Regions from separate parts of the Homo sapiens genome. Here all the other regions are linked to region 3. The links come from fine-mapping of genetic effects on gene expression. A gene starts in region 3. Each other region holds a variant in brackets. All regions are shown on one strand. Distances are from middle to middle.

Region 1 (10,102 bases), 100 kb after region 3:
TGGGGACAGTAATCACAGTGTCCAAGATCACAGTGTTTGTGTGCCTCCCCAGTGCAAATCCCCTCCCATCCCAGTCCCCTGTAGTTCCTCCCCCATCCCCCCACCCTTTTTTTTTTTTTTTTGAGACGGAGTTTTGCTCTTGTTGCCCAGGCTGGGGTGCAATGGTGCAATCTTGGCTCACCGCAGCCTCCGCCGCCTCCCGGTTTCAAGCAGTTCTCCTGCTTCAGCCTCTTGAGTAGCTGGGATTACAGGCGCACGCCGCCACGCCCAGCTAATTTTGTATTTTTAGTATAGATGGGGTTTCTCTATGTTGGTCAGGCTGGTCTCAAACTCCCCATCTCAGGTGATCCACCCGCGTCAGCCTCCCAAAGTGCTGGGATTACAGGCATGAGCCACCGCACCCGGCCCAGCCCTCTGTTCTTACCAGAGCACAGTCTTGCTGGTCTTTGCCTGCTGTGTTCTCTGCAGCCCTACCATTGAGCAATCCATATTCCCAATGTTTCTTTCTGAGCGTTTACATGATGTCTTGATTTGCTTTCTCTTTCCAGTTCTTTCCAAATGGCAATGCATTTGCCACTGGCTCAGACGACGCCACCTGCAGGCTGTTTGACCTTCGTGCTGACCAGGAGCTCATGACTTACTCCCATGACAACATCATCTGCGGGATCACCTCTGTCTCCTTCTCCAAGAGCGGGCGCCTCCTCCTTGCTGGGTACGACGACTTCAACTGCAACGTCTGGGATGCACTCAAAGCCGACCGGGCAGGTACGTGGCCATGGGGCCTTTCTGTGTCTTGTGGACATTTACGTGGTATCTTTAGAGCAAACACAGAGTGGTTGCATAAGCTGCAGTGTTTTAGTATCGGTGGGACTGTGGCATGGCGTAGCAGGAGTGACAGTCGCAAACTGATGGCCCAGCTCTGACCCTCCAGGCAAGTGGACTCCGAGGAGTACCAGCAGATCTTCCCACATGCGTCGGGGAGGGCTCTGGGGAGAGTCAGTGGGCAGGAGAGGGTCAGCTGTGCAGGCTCCAGGGCCCAGCCCCGTGCTTTCCCCTCTGAACTCTGCTTCAGGGGGAGGAGTTCCATGCAGGGACACCTCTGGGTGCCGTTACAGTTAACATATCAAAGGCAAGCGTGTTATTGCCAGGTGTACAAAAGATGAGACTTCCTTACTAAAAATGGTCATTTGGGCATTTGAATTTGAGAACTGTTGACACTTACAGACTTAGATTCATTTGTCTCAGTACCTGGGAGGACAGAAGGGAGCATGGCTCCAGGTCTTGGCCCTTACCGGGGCTTCCTGCTTCCGGATGGGTGCCACTCCCACCTCCTGGTTAAACACATTTCTTTTTCTCCCCAGCCTGGGGGGACCAGAGTGGAGCCATTTCCAGCCAAGTCTCACAGTCACAGTGCTGTTGAAGGGCGGTGGAAGCCAGCCCAGGCCTTGGCAGAGCACACGCCGGCCCCTGTACTCAGCTGTGTGGTGGCTGCAGGAGGTGGAGGAGGGTGGCTGAAATGGGCCTTCGGATCCCCCTGGGAGGAAGTGGAGCTTCTGGCTGGTGATGATCCAAGCCAAGGTTATTGGGAGTGTTGACAGAAGGCCCCCTCATCACATGACAGTGACAGTGCAGTGCCAGTGGTCTCAGCCACCATCGCTACTCCTGTGTTCTGTGCCTTGTGCTGGGCTCTAGGGATCACAGACAAAGGAAAAACGGCTCATGCCTCTAAGCTCCTGTGTTACAGATTGCTTTGAGATTGGGGCGGTTTTGATTTTTTTTTTTTTTTTTTGAGATGGAGTCTCGCTCTGTCGCCCAGGCTGGAGAGCACTGGCACGATCTTGGCTCACTGCAAGCTCCACCTCCTGGGTTCCAATGATTCTCCTACCCTAGCCTCCTGAGTAGCTGGGACTACGGCCCGCACCACCACGCCCTGCTGGTTTTTGTATTTTTAGTAGAAATGGGGTTTCACCATATTGGCCAGGCTGGTCTCAAAGTCCTGACCTCATGATCTGCCTGCCTCGGCCTTCCAACGTGCTGGGATTACAGGCCTAAGCCACTGCGTCTGATGATAGTTTTGATTTTTTTGATAGTGGCCTTTGCTTCTTTTTTTAAGTTTTATAAGTGAGTGCTGAGAAGTCAATGCCAGGGGCTCTGGATTTATCGATTGCGTGTGTGTGCGTGTCTTTGAATTTTAACAAGGCTGGCCATATGCTGCAGGTTAATTCCCCACGTGGATGCAACTTTCCCTCCCTTCCTGGCCGTGGGAGACTCTGGGTCTTGTCCCATGAGAGATGCACCATCCGTCCTCGTCACAACATGGCACACAGGTGAGATCGATGCCTCTGGGCTTTGGTGTGATTCTGCTGTTGTTTGCTCCCAGGTGTCTTGGCTGGGCATGACAACCGCGTCAGCTGCCTGGGCGTGACTGACGATGGCATGGCTGTGGCGACAGGGTCCTGGGATAGCTTCCTCAAGATCTGGAACTAACGCCAGTAGGTAATGCAGCAGCCCAAATGCCCTTCTCTGAGGAGAACTGTGCGTGTTTCTCATAGAACATTTGAAGTTGTCATTAACGGTTTCTAGATAAATGTTGATGTAGCATTGATTTGGAATTGTGTTGTGGGAAACGTTTACAGAAAGCTGAAGTCACGTGCCCTCAGCTGCAGACACTCATGCAGTGATGGGAAGAGCAGTGACCTGGCTGTGCGTCTGCACTTAGATTCTCTGCCTCTTTTCACATTTCTTTAAACTCTGTTTAAAACAGCATGTGGATGCCATGGAGACTGGAAGACCATTCCAACTTGGACGCGTTACCATGAGA[G/C]CATATCCTATCCAACCGTACTAACGTGGACACCCTACACCTCCCCTCAGAACTTCAAAAGGGCAAGATCTTTTTTCCTTCACTTATTGCTGAAACCAAGAGCACAATTCCCATTGAGAGAAAGATCTCTGTGCTGTAAACTAAAACAAATTGTGCATTCCTTCCGGGGCCATCGTCTTTGTTTTCTTTTTTGTCTTGAATGAATTTTAAAAGGAAATATATAATAAAAATGTTAACCAGAAGGTAAACTTGAGTGTAATTGTCAGACAGACACACTTTTCCACCAGTGTATTTGAATTTTAGACCAGTGACCCTGTTTTGTGGCATTCATGCAAAACATGCTGAGGGCTTTGTTCATCTGGTCATCGTGTCCAAATTTCAGTCATGTTTGTAGCAAGATTTTGGAAGCATTCATATTTCCTTTTTAAAATGTATTCCTTTGTGTTCAACAGTTAATCAAAACCAGAGAGTCTAGGGCAGCCTCTCTGATGTTGTCAATGATGTAAATTCAGTCCCTGGTTTTTAATTTTCTGTCTGATGTCACAGATCATTGTTGCACACAAACGTGGCATAGAAAAGAACATGTTCAGAAGCCATGGGGCCAAGCACATGCGGGGACGGTCTCAAATGCGTGATCAGAGAATCCTTCACCTTTGCTGAAAAGTGAGCTCAGATCCAGCACCATGTTCCTCCTGACCCATCCTGTCTATCTTCTCAGTTGAGTTTTTAATCTCACTTTGGGTTTCCTTGTGAAGTTGGAGGGAAGTTTATAATAGCCTAACACTACCCCACCCCCAACTAGGAGGAACCTCTGTTTTCAAGAGAGATGCCTGTCCTGTGCTTGGATAGTCAGTCAATTATTTGTGTATGAAACAATGTACAAATCAATGTTTTGAAAATAATGATCTCAGACTTTCTAAGTTAAATTTTAAAAATTTTGATTGTTTGCCATATTGGGTGGGTTTACTCTTAGAATCGCATGCTGTAGAAATGCTCAAAAGTGCATATGGGACTCAGTCCTTAGGTGTTCTTTTTCTTTTAAGAAATAACCTCTTACAGTTGTAACCATTGCGGCTCTGTCCACTTCTCGTTGCTGCTCTGTGGCACATATCGGAAGCAGTACAGCGCGCGGCTCTACACGCTTGGGTAGCGGGATAAGTCACTGTTTTCTTTATTTCTTTAAAAAAAAAAAAGTTCTGTTGCAAACGACTGCTGTTGGATTCTGAGGGTGGGGAGGGAGAGAGAGGGAGGGAGAGGGAGTGAAGAGCCTGCCCTCCTATATGGATTCTTCAGGGCCCTCCACATCTGAGGTGGCTCATTCCCATCACACACAGATTGTCCTGGTGTTCATTTCAAGGCCAGTGTTCAGCAGCAGCGTTTGGAAAGCAGGTTCTGTGGGACCCCCCGCCCCGCCCCCCGCACTCCTTCATAGCAGCAGTAGTGGCTTCTCCATCCTGTTTTCTGCAACATTCTATACAAAACTGTGCTGTGACCTTGCGGTAGGCCTGGATCTGGCAAAGAGAATACAAATGAAACCCCTTCTTTCTCTTTCCGTCCAACAACTCTGTAGAGCTCTCTGCACCCTTACCCCTTTCCACCTTTTGTATTTAATTTTAAAGTCAGTGTACTGCAAGGAAGCTGGATGCAAGATAGATACTATATTAAACTGTACTGTTATTTAAGATGTAATAAAGCAGTTTGACATGAGGGACTTTGGTGTGGTGATTATTTACGGGTCCACTTCCAGTTTGCAACGCGCCCGCTTCCCTAAGCTGTCCCTGTTGCTGTGAGGTCTGACGGGCCTGCTCATGCCAGGCGGTGCCATGGCCGCCACCACGTCACAGAATCCATGAGTGGCGCATTGGCTCCTCGGAGGGGTTCCTGGGAAGCTCCACCTCACAGGCCAGCAGAGCAGGGAGGTCCACCTGCCATCGCCCAGACCCCTCCCCAGGCATAGGCCTTGCCCACAGCACCGTGGGAGTCTCCACAGGCGGCTGCCTTGCCTTTCTCCTCTGCCATTTCCCTCCCTTAGAATGTCTGAGGATGTTACTCCAGAGACTAGCTTTCCTTGGGACTGAACTGAGTGTTCCTCTTGGTCTGAATATAAAGAACTGCATCTAGTAAGAAAAAAATGAGCACTGGCCATGGTAGTGTGGAAAACCATGGCTGTGTGTGTCCCAAATAGCCGCTCCTAGGCTCCAGAACCATCCACTTCCCTGCTTTCCAAACTGGTGATTTTTTAAAATCTTAAATAGGCAATACAAAATTAGCTGGGCATGGTGGCACACGCCTGTAATCACAGCTACTCTGGAGGCTGAGGCAGGAGAATGGCATGAACCCGGGAAGGCGGAGTTTGCAGTGAGCCAAGATCGCACCACTGCACTCCAGCCTGGGTGAGAGAGCAAGACTGCCTCTCAAAAAAAAAAAAAAAGTAATTTTTTAATTCCCATGGCTCCAGCAGCTGGAACTTTTTTTTTTTTTCTCCCTTGATGTGGAGTCTCGCTCTGTGGCCCAGGCTGGAGTGCAGTGGCGCTATCTCAGCTCACTGCAACTTCTGCCTTCTGGGTTCAAGTGATTCTCCTGCCTCAGCCTCCCAAGTAGCTGGGATTACAGGCACGTACCACGACGCCCCGCTAATTTTTTTTTTTTTTTTTTTTTGAGACGGAGTTTCGCTCTTTTTTGCCCAGGCTGGAGTGCAATGGTGCGATCTCAGCTCACTGCAACCTCCACCTCCCAGGTTCAAGCGATTCTCCTGCCTCAGCCTCCTAAGTAGCTGGGATTACAGGCGCCTGCTACCATGCCCAGCTAATTTTTTGTATTTTTAGTAGAGACAGGGTTTCACCATGTTTGCCAGGATGGTCTCGATCTCCTGACCTTGTGATCCACCCACATCAGCCTCCCAAAGTGCTGGGGTTACAGGTGTGAGCCACCGCGCCTGGCCCAGATGCCCGGCTAATTTGTTGTTGTTTTTTGAGATGGAGTCTCGCTCTTGCCCAGGCTGGAGTGCAGTGGCGCGATCTCGGCTCACTGCAAGCTCTGCCTCCTGGGTTCACGCCATTCTCCTGGCTCAACCTTCCGAGTAGCTGGGTCTACAGGTGCCCACCACCACACCCGGCTAATTTTTGTATTTTTAGTAGAGACGGGGTTTCACCATCTTAGCCAGGATGGTCTCCATCTCCTGACCTTGTCATCCGCCCTCCTCAGCCTCCCAAAGTGCTGGGATTACAGGCCGAGCCACCGCACCCAGCCAAACTTTTTCCTAGTAAGTGAAGAAGGCTCTCAGCAGAAAGTACCTGTAGGCCCCCTCCTCCCCTGGGCACCAGAGAACCCAGCAGCCCCTCCTCTAGGCTGGCAGTCCCTGGCCGGAGAGGCTCCCATAGGGCACTTGGGATTCACGGAGCAGGGCCCAGCCGCCCTGCTCCAGGCAAGGTGCTGGGTGTGTTTCTGACGCCACCAAGGGTGCCCATCTGCCAGCACTGCAAGTGACACTATGGCGTTGTCTCCCTGGTGGGGTGACCTGGTGCTGTTTTAGGCTGCTGAAGTGGGTGTGATTGGCAGGCTGAACGGGGTGGGCTCGCCTGGCTTCGTCATCCCCCACTTTTCCCTGAAATAAATCAGTTCTTCATAGACATGCAAGTTCTTCACAAGCCCTAACCCTGCCAGCTGTCTTACAAAAACCCCACTTAAAATCACTAGAGAGTTGAACTTGTCTTGGAGGCGTCAAAAGAAAAAAAAAATTAAAAATTAAATGCAGAGAGTACCTGAGGCTCTTTCCTGGCTGGCAGTTCCTGGGAGGGAGGGGCTCCAGCAGCCGGGAGGCAGGGTGCCGGCCTGCAGTGGCCTATCTTGGTCCCTGCCCAGAGTAAATAAAGGCCGAGCATCTCAGCACGGCTGCCACACCCCCGACTCCACTTCCTCCCTTTGGGGATTCCTGTTGGCTTCTGTGTCCTAGCCTGGCACCCCGCAGACTGAGGGAGCTGGCATGTGGGACCTGGGACCCTCTGGTGCCCCTTCCCCTTGGCTTTGGCCTGGAAGAGCCAGAGCTGAGGGGGACCCCTCCCTGGGGCGGCCTGCCTGTCCCTTGGCGGGCATGGAGGCCACTGCCCCACTTTCTTAGCAAAACAGGAAATGAAAACGGGCGCCAACAACGTGCACTTGGACAGCGGCACTGACTAAGGCAGTGTGGAAAGAGGAGGATAATTCCACACTGGCTGAGTGAACTGCAATCATTTTCAAACTGTAGGCACAGAAATCTAGTTTGTAGATTGCATTAGCCTGGCCTATGCAGGAGCAGCGCCCTTTGTCGCCAGCAGCTCCGCGGTGTGGGGGCCCCTGGCGCGCTTCCTGTGTCCGGGTCACCTGGCTCCGCCCCGCTTGCGCGGGCGCACCTGTCGCAGGTGGACACAGGCAGTGGAGTGACCTGCAGCTCGCTCCGGCTGTGGGCTGTTCCTGCAGGGCCTCGGACCTCCTTTGACCAAGCGGCGCGGGGTCGCCCCTGTGCTCCATGTCCCAGGGATGGAGGTTCCCCACCTCAATTTTACTCTAGCACGTGGCACGCACGTCCACACTTGAGCAGGACAAGGTTTCCGTTCTGTCCCCTCCGTGTCACGCACCTAGCAGAGGCTGGCCCTCAGCAGGATGCGTGGGGAGGCGCGCTCTGCCCACGCGAAACGGGGACACTTCAGCGGCCTGGCGCGGCCCCCCGCTCCCCCCCGAGCCGGACCTGGGAGCCTGAGTGACTGGGGCCAATAGAAGGGCCGGCCGGGAACCGAGCGCTCCCGGGAAAGGCCGCCTCGGCCCCTCCCACTACTCTCTGGCCTCGCCCTGTCCCCTACCCCCACCCCCCAGCTCCCTTTCCTCGCTGGGTGACCTTGAGCAAGTTACTTGGCCTCTCTGTGCCTCTGGCCCCCGCGTGAAAAATGTGGACAATAAACGTACCAGGCTGTGGCCGGGCGCTGTGGCTCACGCCTGTAATCCCAGCACTTTGGGAGGCCGAGGTGGATGGATTACCTGAGATCAGGAGTTCAAGACCAGCCTGGCCAACATGATGAAACCCCGTCTCTGCTAAAAATACAAAAAATGAGCCGGGTTCAGTGGTGTGCGCCTGTAACTCCAGCTCTGGAGGCTGAGGCAGGAGAATGGCTTGAACCCGGGAGGCGGAGCTTGCAGTGAGCTGAGATCATGCCACTACACTCCAGCCTGAGCTACAGAGCGAGACTTCGTCTTATACTAGGCTGCTTGGTAAGGATCTTGTGAGGACACAGGGAGTCCCAGTCCTGCCAGGTGGTTACTGTTGATGATCCCCGCCCACTCTAGGCTCTCACCACTTCAGGGTCCTGGTCCTTGCTGCTGCCTCTGCCTGAGAGAGAAACACTTGTCCCTGGGTACCTTGGTCAAAACTGTACCCCAACCCCTGCCTGCCCCCACCAATTCTGCTTCTTGCCCGTCTGCCCCACTAGAAGGTGAACACCTGATGGACTTTGGTTTCCACTGTTGAATCCTCAGTATGCCCTGCACATGGCTGGCATCCTGGGAAAGAGGTTGCCCCTCGCCCCAAACCAGGCCAAACAGAAGACTGTCATGTGAGCAGATCCAGACACTGGCCCCTGCAGACGCCCCTATCCTGGCTTTCAGCCTGGGCAGGGCCTGTGCCGGGTGCTGGCTGGAGGCTGGATGAGATGACCAGATAGCCTGCCATACTGATGTCCTTCACTGGGAGCCTCAGTCCTTCCCAGTCATCCTTTCCCCAGGCTCCAGGCCACTTACCCTTGTGGGTTCTGGGCAGACTTCGTTCACCCAGTTTACTGGAGCCAGGCCACCTGAAGCCAACTTCCCTCTCTCCTCAGCCTCCCCAGGAGCAACCTGTACCCCAGTGCACCCCATCCTGCTCCATCCCTCATGGCCTCCGTTCCCCCTTCTCCCTCCACCCTCCCCATCCCTGCTGACCCCCAGAAGAGGATGGGTCCAGGTTTTGGGGGTTCTGAAGTAAACAACATGGGAGCCATCCTTAAAGAATACAAAAAACAATGCGAAATTATGTGAAGAGTCCACTGCCACCTTGAGCAATGGCAGCCCTGGGGCTGAGGAAGGTCAGGGCAGGGGATGCCACCCACTGCTGCCCCATCCCTGGGGCCTGGTCAGGCAGGAGGGGGCCTTTCCTGACCCCCAATCCCTTGAAGGCAGAGCCTCTTCCTGTGCACCATCTGGCAGAAGCCCCCATGATAGCCCTGGACCCTTCTGTTCCTGCTGCGGGAACATCTCTTCCCTTTGGTCTCAGCCCAAGCAAAGCTGCCTCTTGGACCATTCTGGGTGCCCTAAGGAGCCTTCCCAGCTTTGGTCTTAGTTATTGCTGGCCAGGCCTGGGGTGAGGTGTGGGTGTGAGATCTTGGCCCCTGAATCTTCAAGGTCATATCCGGGGCCTGCCCTGAGAAATTGCACAACCTGTCAGCTGAAGGAAACCACAGCCCTGGTTTTGTTTTCTCATCTCTGAAACAGGGAAGCTCTCCTGCAGGCAGTGCCCAGGCCCAGGGTAGACAAAGGGTTTTCATGCCACAGACGGGGCAGCTGCTGGAGCTCCCTACACAGCGGGACACGCGAAGGGCACCTGCTGTGTGACCTGGGGCCCACGACAGTCACTGGTTGCCTCTGCAGAAGCAGTTGACTGCCTCCACTCTAGAAGATTCTACTGAGGCCTGGCTCAGTGCCTGGCTTGTGGGTGCGCCATCTAGATCAAGCATTATTATGCTAATGATCATATGCAAAAACTCAGCTCACGCATTATTATGTTAATGATCTTATCCGCCCCCTCTCCCCCCGCCAAAGAAAAAGAACTGGGCAGCTCAAGGCCGCTTCTGTGGGTGTGGCTGGTGGTCACTTTGAAACAGTTGGGTTTGCAAAATAACCCCGGGAGAAGTTACAGAGCTTAAGAAATCCCCCAAGTTCTCATGATCCTTGCTTCCCTTTCCAGTCACCCTTGGTGCCCTGTACTTCACTGTGGTCCTGAACTGAAGAGCTGTGTTTTTCAGGAAGACTTGGCCAGGCCGTGTTCCGTGTCTCTGGATTCAAGTCCCAGGAGTCCTGACCAGAGAGCAGGTATGCGGGTGTGGGGAAGGGCTGCAGAGGACTCAGGTCCACACCGACCCTGGGCCAGGTGATCACACAGAAAGTATAGACAGGGACTGAACCTCAGAAAACAATGGCTGGGCCAGGTGCAGTGGCTTACGCCTATAATCCTAGTACTTTGGGAGGCCGAGGCGGGTGAAGTTTGAGACCCAGCCTGGG
Region 2 (10,102 bases), 53 kb after region 3:
GAGATGAGGTTTCACCATATTGGCCAGGCTGGTCTCGAACTCTTTACCTTGTGATCCGCCCAACTTGGTCTCCCAAAGTGCTGGGATTACAGGCAGGAGCCACGGTACCTAGCTTTTTTTTTTTTTTCTTTTCGAGACGGTGTCTTGCTCTATCACCCAGGCTGAAGTGTAGTGGCGTGATCTCCACTCACTACAACCTCCACCTTCTGGGTTCAAGTGATTCTCCTGCCTCTGCCTCCCAGGTAGCTGGGGTTACAGGTGCCTGCCATCACGCCTGGCTAATTTTTTTAATTTTTAGTAGAAACGTTTTTTTTTTTAGTTCGCTGCCAAGAACATAATGTGTTCTTAAAACACATTAAAATTAAAAACATTTAATTTTTAGTTAGCCACGTTGGCCAGACTGGTCTCGAACTCTTGACCTCAGGTTATGCGCCCACCTCAGCCTCCCAAAGTGTTGGGATTACAGATGTGAGCCACCGCGCCCAGACTGTTGTGTGTTTTTGTTTTGAGACAGATTCTTGCTCTGTCACCTAGGCTGGAATGCAGTGGAATGATCTCGGTTCACTGCAACCTCCACCTCCCGGATTTAAGCGATTCTCCTGTCTAAGCCTCCTGAGTAACCGGGATTACAGGCTTGTGACACCATGCCTGGCTAACTTTTTTTTTTTGTATTTTTAGTGGAGATGGGGTTTCACCATGTTGACCATGCTGGTCTCCAATTCCTGACCTCAGGTGATTTGCCTGCCTCAGCTTCCCAAAGTGCTGGGATTGCAGGGGTTAGCCACTGGGCCCGGCCTGCATTAGTTTTTAAATTGTTACTGTAATTTTTCTAGTGATAGGATTCTAACCTCTGTGCCCATACTTTTCAGTTTAATTCAAGGTATTTTCCCTGGGGCATTTCTAAGGATTCTTAAAGAAGTTGAGATCTGATTTCTTATTTTGTTCCCATGCTGAAAAACAAAATATGACAGTACTGCTAAATAAAGCAATTTTGGGGGAGAAATAGTAATAGGGAAGGGTCAAATTTATGTGTCGTTGCATAAAATATAGCTACTAGCAAAATAGAATATTTTATTCACAACCTGAGTGCAATACAAATACAGCCTTTTCTGTTTGTTTCAGACAAATTTACATGTATTGGAGACCAGACCAGAAGCCCTTCTGAATTAAGGTAATTTTGATATATTTGATCCTCATCAGTTTTAGAAAGACAATATATAAATTTCTTCAGAGTTTGTTTTTATAAATAGCTGGTGGGTTGGTTTTTTAAAGAGACAGTGTTTTGCCATGTTGCTCAGACTGGATTCTAACTCCTGGGGTCAAGGGGTTCTCTCACCTCAGCATCCTGAGTAGCTGAGGCTATAGACATACGCCAGCATGCCTGGTCAATACCCTGGTTTTTGTTACAGTTTTTTTCTATCTCTTTTAAGCCAAAGTTGGTTTTCAAAACAATTTGATCCTCAAAAAAAGCTTCCATTTAGTGTTGAGCAAGAAGGTTTAGGGTCCCAGTGATGAGGATTTACCTTCTGAATCAGAGTGGTACATCGCTAGTTTTTTTCGTTAGAAAGCAGGAGAGCCCTTTTTTCAAATCAGATCTTAGTTGAAATACCAATATATGGCCGGGTGCGGTGGCTGATGCCTGTAATCCCAGCACTTTGGGAGGTCAGGTTGGGTGGATCACGAGGTCAGGAGATCGAGACCATCCTGGCTAACACGGTGAAACCCTGTCTCTACTAAAAATACAAAAAATTAGCCGGGTGCGGTGGTGGGCGCCTGTAGTCCCAGCTACTCTGGAGGCTGAGTCAGGAGAATGATGTGAACCCAGGAGGCGGAGCTTGCAGTGAGCCAAGATCATACCACTGCACTCCAGCCTGTGGGACAGAGCGAGACTCCGTCTCAAAAAAAAAAAAAGAAAAGAAAAAAAAGTAAGGTGAACATGATTCAGGAAAACAAAACAAAACAAAAACCTTTTTGTTTGAATAAAGTGGGAATAATGAAGCCATGTTCGTAGTGAGTGAGTCTGGGTGAGGAGGGTACATGGTTTCTTTGTATTATTCTTGCAACTCTTTGAAGTTTGAAATAATTTTAAATTAAAAAGCAAAATTAAATTGAATAGCAATTAGGGGCTGGAACAATTGGATATTCTTTTTTTTCTTTTGAGACAGAGTCTTGCTCTGTTGCCCAGGCCGAAGTGCAGTGGTGCAATCTCAGCTCTCTGCAACCTCCCCCTCCCAGGTTCAAGCCATTCTCCTGTCTCAGCCTCCCAATTAGCTGGGATTACAGGCGCTCACCACCACACCCAGCTAATTTTTGTATTTTTAGTAGAGACGGGGTTTCACCATGTTGGTCAGGCTGGTCTCGAACTCCTGACCTCAGGTGATCCACCCGCCTTGGCCTCCCAAAGCTGTGGGATTACAGGCGTGAGCCACCACGCCTGGTTAGTCAATTGGATATTCTTACGCAAAAGGAGAACTTGACATCATGTACAGAAATTAACTCAGGCCAGGCAAGGTGGCTCACCTGTAATCCCAGCATTTTGGGAGGCCAAGGTGGGCAGATCATCAGGTCTGGAGATCGAGACCATCCTGGCCAACATGGTGAAACCCCGTCTCTACGAAAATACAAAGGAAAAGATTTAGCCACGTGTGGTGGCACGCCCCTGTAGTCCAGCTACTCAGGAGGTTGAGGCAGGGGAATCGCTTGAACCCAGGAGGCAGAGGTTGCAGTGAGCTGAGATTGCACCGTTGTGCTCCAGCCTGGTGACAGAGTGAGACTCCGTGTCAAAAAAACAAAAACAAAAACAAAAAGGCCAGGCATGGTGGCTCACGCCTGTAATCCCAGCACTTTGGGAGGCCAAGGAGGGTGGATCACGAGGTCAAGAGATCGAGACCATCCTGGCTAACACGATGAAACCCCGTCTCTACTGAAAATACAAAAAATTAGCCAGGCGTGGTGATGGGCACCTGAAGTCCCAGCTACTCAGGAGGCCAAGGCAGGAGAATGGCATGAACCCAGGAGGCGGAGCTTGCAGTGAGCCAAGATCACGCTACTGCACTCCAGCCTGGGTGACAGAGTGAGACTCCGTCTCAAAAAAAAAAAAAAAAATTAACTCAATGGATCATATACCTAAATATAAAACGTAAAATTAGAAAAAATGAGATTTTGAATTAAGCAAACAGTTTTTAGATGTGAGATCAAAGATAGAATGCGTAAAAGAAAACATTTATAAATTGAATTTGTTCAAAATTTAAAACTTCTGCTCCTTAGAAAAAACAGAGAACGAAAGACAAACCATAGTCTGGCAGAAAATATTAGCAAATGTCTTTTAGATGACTTGTATCCAGAATAGGTAAGAACTCTCAAAACTCAATTTTGGCTAGGTACTATGGCTAACACCTGTAATCCCAGCACTTTGGGAGGAGGATTGCTTGAAGCCAGTTGTTCGATACCATCCTGGGCAATAAAGTGAGACCCCTGTCTCTTCAAAAAAAAAAAAAAAAAAAAGTTAGCAGTCGGGCACGGTGGCTCACACCTGTAATCCCAGCACTTTGGGAGGCCCAGGCAGGCGGATCACCTGAGGTTGGGAGTTCGAGAACAACCTGGCCAACATGGGGAAACCCCATCTCTACTAAAAATACAAAAATTAGCTAGGTGTAGTGGCTTATGCCTATAATCCCGGCCATTTGGGAGACTGAGACACAAGAATCACTTGAACCTGGGAGGTGGAGGTTGCAGTGAGTCCAGGTTGTGCAACTGCACTCCAGCCTGGGTGATAAAGCGAGACTGTCTCCAAAAAAAAAATTTAGCCAGGCATCGTGTTGTGTGTCTGTAGTACCAGCTACTTGGGAGGCTGAGGTGGGAGAATCACTTGAGCCCGGGATGTTGAGGCTGCAGTGAGTCACGATCACACCACTGTACTCCAGCCTGGACAACAGAGCGAGACCCTGTGTCAAAAAAAAAAAAAAAAAAAAAAGCAATATTAAGAAAACAGGTAACCCAATAAAAAAGAGGCAAGTGACTTGAACAGACACTTTACCAGAAACTGTATAGACAGCAATTGAGTGCCTCAGAAGCTCAGCAGTCAGCGAGATGCAGATGGAGACTACAGCCCACGCCCCCATTAGAATGGCTGTGACACCCACCCAGCGTTGTTGGGCGTGAGGAGCCGGGACTCTCCACATTGCTTATAGGATGTTGGGAATGTGACCCAGCATAACCATTTTGAAAAGAGTTGGTTTTTTTTGTTTTTTGAGTTTGTTTTTTGTTTTTTTGAAATAGGGTCTCACTCTGTCTCTTAGACTGGAGTACAATGGTGTGATCATAGCTGACTGCATCCATGACCTCCTGGGCTCAAGTGATCCTCTGGCCTCAGCTTCCTAAGTAGTTGGGACTATAGGCACGCACTACCATGTCTGGCTTTTTTTTTTTTTTTTTTTTTCTTTTTTTAATTCTTGTAAGACGGGGTCTCAGTATGTTGCCCAGGCTGGTCTTCAATTCCTGGGCTCAAGTGATCCTCCTGCCTTGCCTCGGAAAGTGCTCAGATTATAGTCATGAGTCACTGCACCTGGCCTGGCATTTTCTTGGAATGTTCAACACACACCTGTAGTATGATCCAGCCATTCCACCGCTAGGAATCTGCCCAAGAGAAGTGAAAGCAGATGTTCTCATAAAGACTTGTACATGTAACAACATGCACAGATTTCAAAGTATCACATCTATCTGATTAACTCCACTGTTACACTGGTTGCCACTGCTACATATATTTTTGATTTCTGCAAAAGGGCCTACTGCACTGACTGGATGGAAAGTGTGGCAGGTGAGGCAGGAGGTAGTTTTCTGGACATTACTTAAAACTTTCAGGGCAACAGTTTTACACCTGCTTTCATAGCAAGTCATATTTAGTAAGCATTTACTGTGTCAGTCATGGTTCTAAGGGGCTTGCA[T/C]GGATTCTAATGGAATTGTCATAGCATGAGCTGTGGGGACTATTACTGTCCCCACTTTCAGACAAAAAAATGTAGGCAGAGAGAAGTTAGGAAACCTACTGGAGGCCACCTGGTGAGAAGAGATAGAGTCTGGGTTAGAACCTGGGGCTTCCAACTTTCCTGCCATGAAGCGTCACTCTGCTTCCAGCCAGGGCTGTCAGACATCATTGGTCCTGCTTAAGTGGGCTGGACCTGCAAATGCCAATAAAAACACGGAAGTTTTTCTAGGAACAGAATTCTAACCCCCACCGCCCATTTGCTGTTGGGAAAGCACATAGTATTCATTGTAGTTTGCAGCAGTAAATGTAAAAACAAAGATTATTTTTATATACTGGAGTGCAGATGGCATGGCACACAGCAGTCTTTCCCTAAACCTAAGGATTTCCAGGCCCCTTATAAAAGGTGCTTGGAGGCCGGGTGCAGTGGCTCACGCCTGTAATCCCAGCACTTTGGGAGGCTGAGGTGGGCGGATCATGAAGTCAGGAGATCAAGACCATCCTGGCTAACACGGTGAAACCCCGTCTCTAATAAAAATTTAAAAAATTAGCAGGGCATAGTGGCAGGCGCCTGTAGTCCTGGCTACTTGGGAGGCTGAGGCAGGAGAATGGCATGAACCCGGGAGGCGGAGGTTGCACTGAGCCGAGATCGCACCACTGCACTCCAGCCTGGGCAACAGAGTGAGACTCCATCTCAAAAAAAAAAAAAAAAAAAGTGCTTGGAGTTTAGCCTCCTCTGTTGTGTGCGCTGCATGATTGTTAGTTTCTCACCACCTTTCCCTGTTAGACCCGTCTTCTGGATGGATGCCATTCATTTCATGAGACTCCATCAGTTACATATAAAGTTTGGCTTTGAAATGATCAAAGTGGGACTTCCAATTTGGCCTCAACATGTTTGAAGATGTGTATCTATTGAATGATTTCCAATTGTCCTAGTATGTGCTAGATTTTGTGCTCCGCCCTAAAAGCAAAAAGAGGCCATAGGCTAACAGGGTTAGAAAAGGGAGAGCAGAATGGGAGATCAGATGTTTTTTGTGATGCATGAGAAATAATAAGGCTTCGGGAGAGTCAGTAGCCACTTCTGGGATTTCAGAGTTCCAAGGGTCAGAGGTAAGCTCTTAGCAGCTGTGCCTCACTGGCTCACCCCTGGCTGTTAGACCCCTCCCTGGAGAATTGCCTTCTGAGGGCTTTGTGACCGCACACCATAGTTCCTGCCCTTCCCCCAGTTGCCAGCGTCTAATGGGTGAGTGAGCTCACTTGTGACTGGGACATGAAGGAGATGATTCTGGGGAGTCTCTTCACTTAGTCCAGAAATCCTCCCTCCATTGTTTGCTTTCTCTCCTTTTTCCCTTGAAGTTTATTTGTTAAAGACAGACTAACCGACCTGCCTGGTCGTCTGTCCTGGAGTGTTTCCCAGGCCATTGTGTAGTACCGTTGCCTCTGTGGGGTCATTGAACATGTTTCCCTGTCTTCTAGTTCTAGAGCTTTGGTCACATTCACTTTTTCGTTAAGATTACTTTATAGGCACAGGCAAAATCCTAAGGTAAGATTTTTAAAATTGTTACCATTGCAAAAAATAGCACCTCAAACAAGAACAGTTGTGTTATTTTTGCCCATCTGCCTGCTGCTCAAATGTTGGCCCATTAGCAAGGTCATGTCTAACAGCCATGCAAAGCAGCATCCTCCCTGCCCTCGTTGGCACACTTCACCCGTTCGCAGTGACTGTGTACGCTCCCAGCCTCTGTAACTCCACGTGATTTACCTGTTTGTCTTCTGTCTCCCTCAAACTAGAATCCAGCCTGGTTCATGCTGCTCAGCACCATGCTGAGGCTCTACAGTGCCTGTTGTGTTGGAGGGAGGGTCTGCGCATGCGTTGCTCTGCAGCTGCGTTAGTGGTCGTGTCCTTTATCAGTTGCGGTGGTCCCCTGCTCCCCTTATTCCTCACAGTATTGTTAGGAGCGGTGCGTAAGGGAAGCAGGGCCTGAGGACTTTTTCCGTTGCCCTTTGAATTCCCACAGTCTTAGTTTTGGAGATTGACCTGGACTTGGGAATGAAAGAAAAATGGAAAAGTGAGTGAAATTGGTTTAAATTCCTCATGCAAACTCCTCTCTTTCAAAATGCTGCTTCGTCTTGGAGGTGAGCTGTGATCCTTGTGTGTTTGGTCAAGTTAGCAAATTTCCTGCCCCGGTGTAAGACACTGGGGCCGGTTTGGACTTCGGAAGTTGTCCAAACCATCCAGAGATGCAGCCATCCAGTGCTGCACAGGAGGCTCAGGGGTGTGCGGCTAGCTGGTGACCAGGTGACTCAGGACTGCCCTGTTGCTGCTTGGTGGTGGGACCACATGTGTGCACTTTGGTGAGCATGGTGCCTGTTGTCCTTGAGATTGTTAGTCAAAGGTACACGTCATAGTTTAATCACTGTGAGACTGACAGAGCACTTTCAGATTGGTTGTCTGATTTAATTTTCATTTTAGCTCTGTGATATAGATAACACCATTCCCATTTTGAATTAAGCAGATTAGAGTAAAAAACAATTTAGTGAAAGCATTATTCTTTGTATGTTGCAGAACCAGAACTTGAAATTATTTTTCAATATCTGTACCCTATTTTGTCATTGGCAAACTTGCAGCCTGAATGTTGTTATTGGTGACTGTGTAATATGGGGTCCTGAGGGCACCGCTGAGGTGCCCCTCCTAGACTCTCAGGGGTCTGGATGAGAGGCCTGGGCTGCTGCATTGCCATGAAGGGTAGAGGCACTACACGGAGCACATTGCATTGCAAATATGAAATATTCTGACTTTAAAAATCTTGCTAACACTTGACTCACAAAGATGTTGTTCTAAAGTAGGGGCAGATCCCTTCACCTGCTTGCTTTTAAGTTATTCAAATCTCTCTCAAAAGGATTTCCAAAACTCAGATTCTGAATAAAAGCCAATGGCAGATATGGGTCATCAGGAAGACTAGACATGAGGCCTTAGCAGAGCCTGTCTTAGTGGATTAGACGGGCGGGCTCTTGGAGTCAGCACAGCCAGAGCTTAGCCGTGACGTCGGCACCGGAGGAGAGGAGCCCAGGCCAGGGAAACCTGGTGGTGGGTGTTCTGGAAGGTCTGGGGGACTGAGGGAAGCGAAGAGAAAAGCAAGAGCAATTAAATGTGAGTAAGACTTTTAAAATTTACATTTATTCTTTAATTTTCAAAGGAAGCTGCATCAATATTACGTTTAGTAGAAAAACGTGACTAATAGTTATAATAAAAATGCTATTCTATCTTTCTTTAAAGTGAGTATATTTTTCTTTTTTCTTTTCTTTTTTTTTTTTTTTTGAGACAAGGTCTCACTCCATGTGCTCAGGCTAGAGTGTAGTGGAACAGTCATGGCTCACTGTAGCCTCAATTTCCCAGGCTCAAGTGGATTCTCCCACTTCAGCCTCCCAAGTAGCTGGGACTACAGGCGTGTGCCACTGCGCCAGCTAATTTTTGCATTTTTAGTAGAGACCAGGTTTTTGCCATGTTGTTGCCCAGCCTGGTCTTGAACTCCTGAGCTCAAGCCATCTGCCAGCCTCAGCCTCCCAAAGTGCTGGGACTACAGGCATGAGCCACCGCGCCCAGACCTATTTTAATTATAATAAAGCAGCTACAATTACTACATGTGACCGGGTGCGTGTAATCCCAGTACTTTGGGAGGCTGAGGCAGGCAGATGACTTGAGGTCAGGAGTTCAAGACCAGCCTGGCCAACATGGCGAAACCCTGTCTCTACTAAAAATACAAAAATTAGCCAGGTGTGGTGGTGCATGCCTGTAATCCCAGCTACTTGGGAAGCTGAGGAAGGAGAATCGCTTGAACTCAGGAGGTGGAGGTTGCAGTGAGCCGAGATCGCGCCATTGCACTCCATCCAGCCTGGGCCTCAGAGCTAGACTCAGTCTCAAATAAAATAACTATATGCAAATTTATATTATTTTTGACTTAGTATATAGTAAGCGTTTTCCCAAATTATTACTGTCTTCCTTATTGTTCTTAGCAATATGTTACAGTTATTCCAGTAACTATTTAGAGACAGGATCTTGCTCTGTTGCCCAGATTGGAGTGCAGTGGTGCTATCATAGCTCACTGCAGCCTTGAACTCCTGGACTCAAGCGATCCTCCCACCTCAGCCTCCCAAGTAGGTAGGACTACAGGCACGTTCCACGATACCCAGCGAATTGCATCAAGTAACTTTTTTTTTGAGATGGAGCCTCATTCTGTCACCCAGGCTGGAGTGCAGTGGCACGATCTCTGCTCACTGCAGCCTCCGCCTCCCAGGTTCAAGCCGTTCTCCCACCTAAGCCTCCCGAGTATGTGGGATTACAGGCACGCATCACCACACCTGGCTAATTTTTGTATTTTTTAGTAGAAACGGAGTTTCACCACGTTGGCCAGGCTGGTCTCGAACTCCTAACCTCAGGTGATCCACCTGCCTCAGCCTCTCAAAGTGCTGGGATTATAGGCTTGAGCCATTGCACCTGGCTGCATCAGGTAACTTTAAAAAGTTAACTTTAGGCTGGGTGTGGTGGCTCATGCAATAGATTAGAGTCTAGCGCTTTGGGAGGCCTTGGCAGGAGGATCACTTGAAGCCAAGAGTTTGAGACCAGCCCGGGCAACATAGCAAGGCCTCGTCTCTACCAAAAATTTCAAAAATAGCTGGGTGTGATGGGTGGAGTCTGCTTGTAGTCCTGGCTACTCTGGAGGCTAAGGTAGAAGGATGGCTTGAACTGCAGTGAGCTATGATCATGCCACTCACTCCACCCTGGGCAAGAGTGTGAGACCCTCACAGAAATTTTTTTTAAAAAATGTAACATTAAGGCTGGGCGCGGTGGCTCACTCTTGTAATCCCAGCACTTCGGGAGGCTGAGGCGGGCGGATCACGAGGTCAGGAGATGGAGACCACGGTGAAACCCCGTCCCTACTAAAAATATAAAAAATTAGCTGGGCGTGGTGGCGGGCGCCTGTAGTCCCAGCTACTCGGAGAGGCTGAGGCAGGAGAGTGGCGTGAACCCGGGAGGTGGAGCTTGCAGTGAGCTGAGATCGCGCCACTGCACTCCAGCCTGGGCGACGGAGCAAGACTCCATCTCAAAAAAAAAAAAATGTAATA
Region 3 (10,084 bases):
AATAAAATAAAAATTAAAAAAATTTCACTGGGAATTCACTCCTTGCTCAACTGTGCTAGGCAGGCAGGCGCCCCTGTGGGGGCGGGGCCTCGGTGGTCCAGCGGAGGTCAGAGGCCACGCAGGGTGAGGAGCGGGTAGCATATGGTGGGGTGGAAGCAAGGATGAGAGACTGGTTACACAGGAGATAATCAGAGCCAGGTTCCTCACTCCCAAAGCAGGAGGCCCCTCATTCCGAACAGGTTGAGCCCTGTAGTGTTGGCCTGGCATCAGAGTAAACACGTGGTGCCCAAGAAAAACAGACAAACACGCCCATGAAACTGTGTGTATACATATGCGTGTGGGCATGTACATAGATGTGTTCCCTTGCTCCGCCAGCTGCAATGACACCCCAGTAGCAATGAGCACATCCGGAGCCAGATCCCGGGCTCTGCATGACATTCTCCCACAATGAACCAGGCTGCAGCAGAAATAGCTGGGTTCAGGCTGGGGCAGGGAGAATACAACAGGGCCCTGGAGCATCTCGTGCCAGAAAGAAAGGGCTCCAGAAATGATGCGGACAGGTGAAGTGGGAGGGAGAGAGAAGGGTGGCAAGGCGTGGGTTCCCTGTCTGGTGGAGGCTCCCCTAGGTAGGGGGAAGCGCGTGGCACGGAGGGCAGGTGGCGGACGCATCTGGAAGCCGCACTTACTGTGTGTCCACTTTCTCACACAAGCACCATGCACACAAAACAAGAAGGAAAACGTCAGCTGAGAGAGGCGGGTGGTGTCCCAGGGTGTGGAGAGAGTAGAAGGTGGGAAATAGGTGTTGGAGGTGGCATGGCCCCTTGAGGTTGTGGCCCTGGTTGAGGGGAGGCCCAGTGGATGAGGTTGGGTCTCTCTCCCCTTCAGCTGTGCTGGTGCAGGCCTGGAGGAAAACGGACGCCAGGTTTGGTGTGGAAGGGGAGCTCGGAGGCGATGAAGGCCCAGGCAGGTGGAAGGTGGTGGTTGAGGACCGGGGAGCAGGGCGCTGGCTGGGGAGAGGCAGAGTGAAGAAGCCGAGGGTGAGGGGCAGCCGGAACTCAGCTGGAAAGACAGCAGGAGGCGGTGGGCGCAGGGGCGGGTTCCATGGACGTTCTGGAGGCTTCTGAGGACACCAAGCCTGGAAGCCAGGACATGTGGCCTTCTTGACTTCGTTCCCCTTCCTCACCTGGAGGTCTCCAGTCCCCGCTGTCCACTGCTCAGCGGCATGGGAGGAGTCCGCGGCCTTACCCCGACACTCCCGCCCACCGGCCCCCGCCCCTGCCAGGCGGCCCTGCTCGCAGCAGCGCGAGGAGCCACGGGGTGCTGCCCTCCTCCGCAGCCCGAGGCCCACTTCACACGCACTGAGCCCAAGCGCGAGTCTCTGCCCGTCAGCCGCGTCTGAGCTCGCCGCAGTCCCTGCTTGAGAGGCCGGGGGGCACCTGCGCCTGCCCGGGACCCTGACCTGCTAGCGGGGCCTGTTGCCTCCTCTGCAGGAAGCGATCTCGCCCGCGGTGCCCCCACCCGCCCCGTCCCCGGAGGGACCGCCCCCGCCCGCGGCCTTCCCGCCCCTGCCCTGTCGCTTGAGTGCCCCCCGCCCGCCGTTACCCCACCCCCGCCCCTGGAGGAGCCCCCGCCCACGGTTACCCAACCTTACCCTGTCCCCGGAGGGCTCCACGCCCGCGTTCCCCCCGCCCCATCCCAACTCCGAGGGTCCACTGCCCCGGTCCCCATCCCGCCCGGTCCCCGCAGGGCCGGGCCGCCGGGGGTCTCCCGGGGCAGCGGTACCCGAAGGCAGCAGCACGGCCCCTTTAAGCCGCTCGGACACGCGCTCGGGGCCCGATGCGGTTTGGACGCGCACAGGCGTGCGCGTGCCCGTCGGGCCTGGCGAGCGCGCGCGACGCGCGGCGTGCGTGGTGACGCGAGCGCGTGGGGTTTTCCGAGGCTGCGGGCAGGGGCCCGCCGCGCCCATCCCGATGGCTGGAGGCGTCTGAGGGGCGGACGGAGGCGGCGGCGGCGGCGGCGGGAGCGGGAGCGGGCGGCGAGTGGGGAGCGGGGCCGGGAGTGGAGCAGCCGCCGCGGCGGGACTGGACCGAGCCTCGCCGGCGCGCACCTGCCCGCAGCGCCCGCGGAGCGCGCAGCGCGGCCCGAGCGCGACGACCTGCCGAGCGGCGGCCGAGGCGGCGGTGTGGGCGCGTCAGGCCGCGACGAGGGCGCTGAGGTGAGCGCGGCAGCCCCCAGCCCCGGACCCGGGTCCTGTTCGTCCACCCGCCCGCCCTGGGGGCGCCCGCCCCGCCCCCACCCCACCCGCCGGTCGGGGCCGCGTCTTCCTGCCCCGCCCGGGTGCGGCGGGCGGCGTCCGAAGGGGGGGCCGGGGGCTGGGGTCCGAGGTTCGGGGTGCAGGGTCGGGGTCGAGGGCGGGGTCTAGGGAGAGGAGCCGGGGTCCCAGGCCCAAGGCTGGGGGCCGAGTTTCGGCACCGGGGTGCGGGGTTGTGTGCGCCGCGGGCGCTTCCCGTGGCGGCGGCCGGGGCCCCGGGGGCGCGGGTCGGGCGGGGCCGGGCCCTGCGTGGGGAGCCGGACGTGGCTCTCGGGCCCGCGGCGCGAGAACAAAGGCCGGGCGGGCCTGCAGGCGGGGCGGTGTCGGCGGCCGGAGCCCCCGCGCGGGCCGCCTATCGGGGTGACTTTGAGGGCCGGGCGGCCGCGGGGCGCGAGCGTGGGGAAGGGGAACAATGAAATGGGGAAGCCGGGCCGCGCGCCGCGGTCGGAGTAGGGATTTAAAGCGGAAGCCGGGCGCGGCGTCGGGAAATGGGAAAATAACGGTTTCGGCCCTTTTCGCTGTGTCGAGCCGCTGAGGCAGTCGCGCTGTGGCCTCGCCCTTCTCCTGCCGAGGCCCGGGTCTGTCCGGCGCTGGCGCCCCGCGCGTGTCGACTCGAGGGTTGCGCGGACCCCGGCCCGGCCCCGCGAATGAATGGGCCCGGTGGCCGCGCCAAGATGGCGCTCCCACCGCTGCCTTTGTGGGGCGGCCGCCGCCGCGCCGAGTTTCGGGGCCCGGTTTGCGATATTCCGAAGGCCCGAAGGTGGGGGAGAGGACAGGAAATAGCACAAAGGCTGGGTGTCTTCCTCTTGCCTGGATCGGCTTTTCGGCTGGAAGCGGGGTGGGGGTGGGGAGTGGGGAGATCTGTTGAAAATTCCACAGGGCTGTCGGCTGAGGCTTTTGACTTTTAAGAACCTGCTATATTTTTTCTTGTGAATCGATAGTTGATTCAAATGATATTTTAACATTTCTTGTGTCCGTTAAATTACATGGTTAGCATGCAGAAGCAGTATCAGCTTTTGTTTGCTTAATTCATCTTCATGGAAGCCTTTTTTTTTTTTTTTTTTAAGAGATGGGATCTCTTTGTAAAAGAGATCCTGTTAACCAGGCTGGTCTCGAACTCTGGGGCTCAAGCGATCCTCCCGCCTCAGCCTCCCAAAGTGCTGGGATTAGCGGCCTTAGCCACCGTGCCCAGCCTGTCTTCATGGAAGCTTTTTCTTAAGATTGTGAAATGGGCTCCTGAAGGAAAACGCCGATGTTAAAATTTGTGTTTTGAAAAGGGAGTTGGTGTACATTTACAGTTAGGGTGTACAGTACTGGACTTATGGGTAAATAGTGTAGAAATGGTAACCTATGGTTTTCTTTTGGGGAGCATTGGTTCATTGTATTTTCATGTTGCTATCTATCTGATAACATTAGTCTCAAATAGTATTAGGTGATTAAGCAGTTGCTGGTGAGATTATTAATTAAGAAAATATGAAGATTATTTTTCATGATTAGCAAATGGACGTATTAGTTTTGTGGAAAGTTTCAGTGAACTGCATACTGAATAAGGTCTTTGGAGCAAGCATTGTTATTGATAAGGTTTTTGCATAAGTTATTTTCTAATCTGAAGTGATAGTCTTTTGGGAGAGGGAGGAGCTCTTTATTGAAAGTAAGGTTTTAATTTTCATGCTATTGACATGCATAGTCTATTCTGGATTCTTTGGGAAGGTATGTATATCAAGAAAGTGGATAGGCGGTTCCTTCTTTGCTAACGCTGGGTTCGAGGCTGGGGATGGAGGTGGTGCCACTGACATGGAGACAGGTCTGAGAGCCTCCCCAGGGTAGGACTGAATGGTGGGTTTTGTCTTGGTTTATGCTAAGGCAGAACTTTCTTTACTTTTTGAGATGGAGTTTCGCTCTTGTTGCCCAGGCTGGAGTGCAGTGGCGCGATCTCGGCTCATTGCAACCTCCGCGCCCCCGGGTTCAAGTGATTCTCTTGCCTCAGCCTCCCGAGTAGCTGGGATTACAGCTACCACCACCACACCCGGCTAATTTTTTGTATTTTTAGTAGAGATAGGGTTTCACCATGTTGGCCAAGCTGGTCTCCAACTCCAGACCTCAGGTGATTCACCCGCCTTGATCTGCCAAAGTGCTGGGATTACGAGCGTGAGCCACCGCGCCCAGCCGGTAAGGCAGAACTTTCTAACGATTAGAGCTGCGCAGAAATGAACTGCAACTGCAGGGTCCAGAGGCTGATGCTGTCAACCCTGGGGGAAGGCTGGACTGCAGGTGTTGGGCGGTGGTCCCAGGTTACGAGCATTTGGTTTCATCAACACTGAAAGTGCTCCCCCCGCCCGCCTTTTTTTTTTTTTTTGAGATTGAGAGTTTGGAAAACCAGTTAAGTTCTGAGGTGCCTGTGCCCCCTCCCAGTTAAGTGCGCACTGCCCAGGCCCAGTGTGAGGATGACATTTTATCTTCTGCGGGAACCTTTCAAGATGAGTCTTATAGAGGAAACTGTTCCAACATGAAATTTCAGCTCAGAATTGACTTTCTCAAAAGAGCACATCCACTGGCCAAAAGCTATTTCTCTCGCGTAATCTGAATTTATGACAGAACCATAGTTATCTCATCAGACAAGTACTGACAGTGCTCTTCAGTGATACCTTTAAAATATTGTTTTTTCTTTGATATCTTCAGTTAATTCTGTTTTTTTGGTGGGTGGGAAAGTTGAAGTAAATTTTCTCAGATTTAATTTTAATCTTAGAAGATTCAAGAGACTGCAGAATAGTGTGTGGTTTTTTTATTGTTTGTTTTTAAGAGTAAAACCCACTGGGTGTGGTGGCTCACGCCTGTAATCCCAGCACTTTGGGAGGTGGAGGCGGGCGGATCACATGAGGCTGGGAGTTTGAGACCAGTCTGGCCAACATAGCGAAACCTCGTATCTACTAAAAATATTAAAATTAGCCGGCGTGGTGGTGGGCGCCTGTAATCCCAGCTACTCGGGAGGTTTAGGCACGGGAATCGCTTGAACCCGGGAGGCAGGGGTTGCGGTGAGCCGAGATTGTGCCACTGGGCGACAGAGTGAGACTGTGTCTCAAAAGAGTAAAAACCTCTGTAAATCCTTTTGATGCCCAATGACTTTGATTTCAAAGCTAGTATCATCTAGGTAGATTTATGTTGATCACTTGAGAAACAGAATTTGAAAAGTTAATTTATTTCTCAAAGGAGATGTTGTACTATCCTGCAAAAGTACCAGAGCTTTGTTCTCTTCCCTTTGCTTTGCTAAAAATTTCTGGGTCTTTTGGTTTATTTTATGTGTGTGTTGGTCCACTGGAAAAGTTGTAGCTTTGTAGCTAAAAACAGCTTTGATAAAAGGATGAAAAAGGTCTTCAGGGCATCTCTAGACTTCATCTACCATCAGTTGACTTTTTGTAGCTAATACTTTAATGAATAACATTGGTATTATTTTAGAAGTGCAGTGTTGGCATTTATTATAGTTTTGTCGTTGTTTTTCTCTGCCCGAAAGATTTGGCTCATGTTGGTCTCTAAATTGGATTACATTCTTACTGTCTGTGACTTTGGCTTTAGCATTAGTGGATTGGTAATAGATATTCTCAATTTTTAAATCTGGCTTGACCATATGGCAGGCCATGTTATTTTGAAACCCCTATTTAGTGTAAGTCTCACAAGACATGGAACAAAAATTTTTATAAAATTTTAAACTGGTTTGACCGGGCGTGGTGGCTCACACCTGTAATCCCAGCACTTTGGGAGGCCGAGTCAGGCGGATCATGAGGTCAGGAGATCGAGACCACCCTGGCTAACACGGTGAAACCCCTTCTCTACTAAAATTACTTCTCTACAAAAAATTAGCTGGGCGTGGTGCTGGGCACCTGTAATCCCAGCTACTCAGGAGGCTGAGGCAGGAGAATGGCAGGAACCCGGGAGGGGGAGCTTGCAGTGAGCCAAGATCGGCCACTGCACTCCAGCCTGGGCGACACAGCGAGACTCCGTCTCAAAAAATAAAAATAAAAAAAATTTTAAACTGGTTTACATTCTGATTTCAGGTTTGCATTTGTTAAGAGTGGTTGGAGAGATTATGAAGTAGGCAATTCAGTTAAGTGTTTGGTTTAGGAACACAGAATGAGGAGATAAAATAAATTTAAAATGGAAACTATCAGAAATTTATGAAACTGCAGTGTTCAACATTACTGAAAGAAAAAGCAGGGCCAACGTATATGGGAGTGAGTGTGTATGAAGAGAGAGAAATGCAACATCACATCAGCTGCTCTGGGAGAGGGACAGAGCACCACCTATTTCAAAGCTATGCATTTTGTTCTAGAACTTTGATTGAAGAAATAGAGACAATCTATAGACATTTGAGTTTGCTAGTGGATTAGTGGAATGCTGAAAGCTTTTTTTGTGAGACAGAGTCCCACTCAGCCACCCAGTCTGGAGTGCAGTGGCGCAATCTCGGCTCACTGCAACCACCATCTCACGGGTTCAAGTGATTCTCCAGTCTCAGCCTCCCGAGTAGCTGGGATTACAGGCACCCGCCGTCATGCCCGGATAATTTTTTAAAATTTTATTTTAGTAGAGATGGGGTTTCACCATGTTGGCCAGGCTGGTCTTGAACTCCTGACCTCCGGTGATCTGCCTGTCTGAGCCTCCCAAAGTTCTAGGATTACAGGCGTGAGCCACCGTGCCCTGCCGGAATGCTGAAAGCTTTTTTAAACCTTTTAGCCTCTTGTTCTTGTGTCAGTGCCTACCATTGGGTGCCATGGTAATCAGTGGAAATTACTCCTGGCTTTCAGTGGTAGAAAAGCTTTCTGTTTTATAGAGCAATGTTGCTTGCTTGCTTTTTTTTTTTTTTAAGATTAAGTGGGCCGGGCACGGTGGCTCACGCCTGTAATCCCAGCACTTTGGGAGGCCGACGTGGGCGGATCACGAGGTCAGGAGATTGAGACCATCCTGGCTAACACGGTGAAACCCCATTGCTACTAAAAATACCAAAAAAATTAGCTGGGTGTGGTGGCGGGCGCCTGTAGTCCCAGCTACTTGGGAGGCTGAGGCAGGAGAATGGCGTGAACCCGGGAGGCGGAGCTTGCAGTGAGCCGAGATCGTGCTACTGCACTCCAGCCTGGGTGACTGAGCGAGACTCCGTTTCACAAAAAAAAAAAAAAAAAAAAAGATTAAGTGGAAGTATTTCCTTATTTATGTCTTCTTAAATTAGAATTCTGAGAAAGACCCATTTTTTAAAAGCTTACTGATTTAAAAGACCAGATTAAGATTATCTAAGGTAATTCCTTTTTTCTTTCTTTTTTTTTTGAGATGGAGTTTCCTTCCTGTTGCCCAGGCTGGAGTGCAATGGCGCTGTCCTGGCTCACTGCAACTTCTGCCTCCCGGGTTCAAGTGATTCTCCTGCCTCAGCCTCCCAAGTAGCTGAGATTACAGGTGCCCGCCACCATGCCTGGCTAATTTTTGTAGTTTTAGTAGAGATGGGGTTTCACCATGTTGGCCAGGCTGGTCTCAAACTGCTGACCTCAAGTGATCCGCCCGCCTCCGCCTCCCAAAGTGCTGGGATTACAGGTGTGAGCCACCGTGCCCAGCTTAATTTTTAAGTTTATTCTGTTGAACCTATTTTGCCATAGATAAAATATTTTTATGATTTAATAATTCATTGCTCCAAACTTACTAATGCATTATATCAAGAGAGGACTTTATGTATTAATTCATTCACCTGTTAGAATTGGAATACTGGCCGGGCACGGTGGCTCATGCCTGTAATCCCAGCACTTTGGGAGGCCCAGGCGGGCAGATCACGATGTCAGGAGATCGAGACCAACCTGGCTAACACAGTGAAACCCTGTCTCTGCTAAAAATACAAAAAAATTAGCCGGGCGTGGTGGCAGGCACCTGTAGTCCCAGCTACTTGGGAGGCTGAGGCAGGAGAATGGTGTGAACCCGGGAGGCAGACCTCGCAGTGAGTGGAGATCGCGCCACTGCACTCCAGCCTGGGCGACAGAGCAAGACTCCGTCTCTCAAAAAAAAAAAAAGAATGGGAATACTAAGGGCATCAGTGGAATGTATTCTTGTTTACTGGTGGGTAATCATGTCTCCATGCATGTCTGTGTGCAGTCCTGTAGCACTTAGAAAATATATTCCCTATGTTGATTACAGACACTCAACTTCTGCCGAGTGTTGTAGTTAATAAAGCTTAAAAAATTCTGGGCTGGGTGTGGTGGCTCATGCCTGTAAACCCAACACTTTGGGAGGCCAAGGTGAGCGGATCACCTGAGGTTGGGAGTTCAAGACCAGCCTGACCAACATGGAGAAACCCTGTCTCTACTGAAAATACAAAATTAGCCCAGACGCGGTGGCTCACGCCTGTAATTCCAGCACTTTGGGAGGCCGAGGAGGGTGGATCAGCCTGGCCAACATGGAGAAACCCCATCTCTACTAAAAATACAAAAAATTACCCAGGCATGGTGATGCATGCCTGTAATTCCAGCTACTCGGGAGGCTGAGGTTGCAGTGAGCCGAGATCGTGCCATTGCACTCCAGCCTGGGCAACAAGAAGGAAACTCCATCTCAAAAAAAAAAAAAAAATTAGTCGGGCATGGTGGCACATGCCTGTAATCTCAGCTACTCGGGAGGCAGAGGCAAGAGAATCGCTTGAACCTGGGAGGCGGAGGTTGCGGTGAGCCGAGATTGTGCCATTGTACTGCAGCCTGGGCAACAAGAGTGAAACTCGGTCAAAAAAAAAAAAAAAAAGTCCGGACACTTTATAATTAGATGAGCATGTCAAAAGAGTCTACAATAGGTTTCAGAAAATTTCTCATAGGAATTTTAAAATAATTCCTAAAATCTAGGGAGTGAGAGAAATTCAGTAGTTTTCAAAAGGATTGGCACTGTCTGAGTTAGAGCCCAGCTCAGCTCTGTTGCCTCACTGGCTGATTTGCAGTGTTAGGACTTTTATTCGCACTGAAAATCAAGATCAGTTCAACTTCTACCCTTCCACTCCACAGGAGCTTTCTGTCCTCCCTGAGCCTGCCTTAATTTAGGCCACCTGCAGTGTTAGGACTTCTGTGTCTGTCCTTATCTGTGAAACAGGCTCCTAGAGCCTCCTTCATGGGGTCATTGTGAGGATTAAATGAGTCCTGATGTGGGCACTGATAACAGAGCTCAGTGCAAGGATTAGCTATTTCTGTTGCTGATGGCCTTGCTTTGTAAAAATTTCTTTTATGGCAAGGTTAACAAATGTTATAAGATGACAGTTTACTGAGATTTTTCTTTTTTTCTCCATGGTTCCAGAAGAATATTAATTCAGGGTGTGGAACATGCATATTAGCTATCTTTGCAAATCCCTATCACTTATTTACTGCCTTACTTTCTACTAAATCTCTCACATCCTTATCTTTTCTTGAAAGGTTTTTTTTTCTTTTTCTTTTTTTTTTTTTTTTGGGACAGGGTTTTGCTGTGTCACCCAGGCTGGAGTGTGGAATGTGATGGTATGATCATGGTTCACTGCAGCCTGGACCTCCTGGGCTCATACGATCTTCTTCTCTCAGTCTCACAAGTAGCTAGGACCACGGGCACATGCCACCGTGCCCAGCTAATTTTTTTTATTGTTTGTAGAGACAGGCTGGTCTCCAACTCCTGGGTTCAAGTGATCCTCCTGCCTTAGCCTCCCAAAATGTTGGGATTATAGATGTGAGCCACAGTAACCTGCTCTTAAAGGCTTTCCTTTACCTTTGTAGAATAATCTTGAACTATGCCTCATTTTGAAAA

Evidence for each region. PIP is the estimated chance that this variant, and not a neighbour inherited with it, causes the effect.
Region 1: its variant is fine-mapped to the expression of GNB1 in whole blood (TOPMed, PIP above 0.99).
Region 2: its variant is fine-mapped to the expression of GNB1 in lung (TOPMed, PIP above 0.99).

The regions. Positions count from the first base shown.
Region 1 is chr1:1,779,716-1,789,817 of GRCh38, reverse strand. GNB1 (G protein subunit beta 1) reads left to right here. Exons shown (of 12, transcript NM_002074.5): 10 at 549-765; 11 at 2,381-2,496; 12 at 2,765-4,532. The coding sequence ends at 2,487. It also overlaps a transcript of NADK not described here. Among named protein-coding and RNA genes, the nearest start is that of NADK, 6.3 kb to the right of the region's middle. RefSeq lists enhancers at 6,664-6,833, 9,143-9,242, 9,253-9,322, 9,333-9,392, 9,403-9,572 and a silencer at 6,754-7,048. The variant G/C (reference allele first, on the strand shown) is at 2,822.
Region 2 is chr1:1,830,259-1,840,360 of GRCh38, reverse strand. GNB1 (G protein subunit beta 1) reads left to right here. Exons shown (of 12, transcript NM_002074.5): 2 at 1,123-1,171. Among named protein-coding and RNA genes, the nearest start is that of GNB1, 56 kb to the left of the region's middle. The variant T/C (reference allele first, on the strand shown) is at 4,944.
Region 3 is chr1:1,882,951-1,893,034 of GRCh38, reverse strand. It overlaps GNB1 (G protein subunit beta 1), which reads left to right and starts at 1,948. Exons shown (of 12, transcript NM_002074.5): 1 at 1,948-2,215. It overlaps GNB1-DT (GNB1 divergent transcript), which reads right to left and starts at 1,855. Exons shown (of 2, transcript NR_168264.1): 1 at 1,652-1,855; 2 at 309-1,135. RefSeq lists silencers at 1,164-1,413, 1,474-1,573, 1,694-1,883, 2,444-2,633 and an enhancer at 3,936-4,435.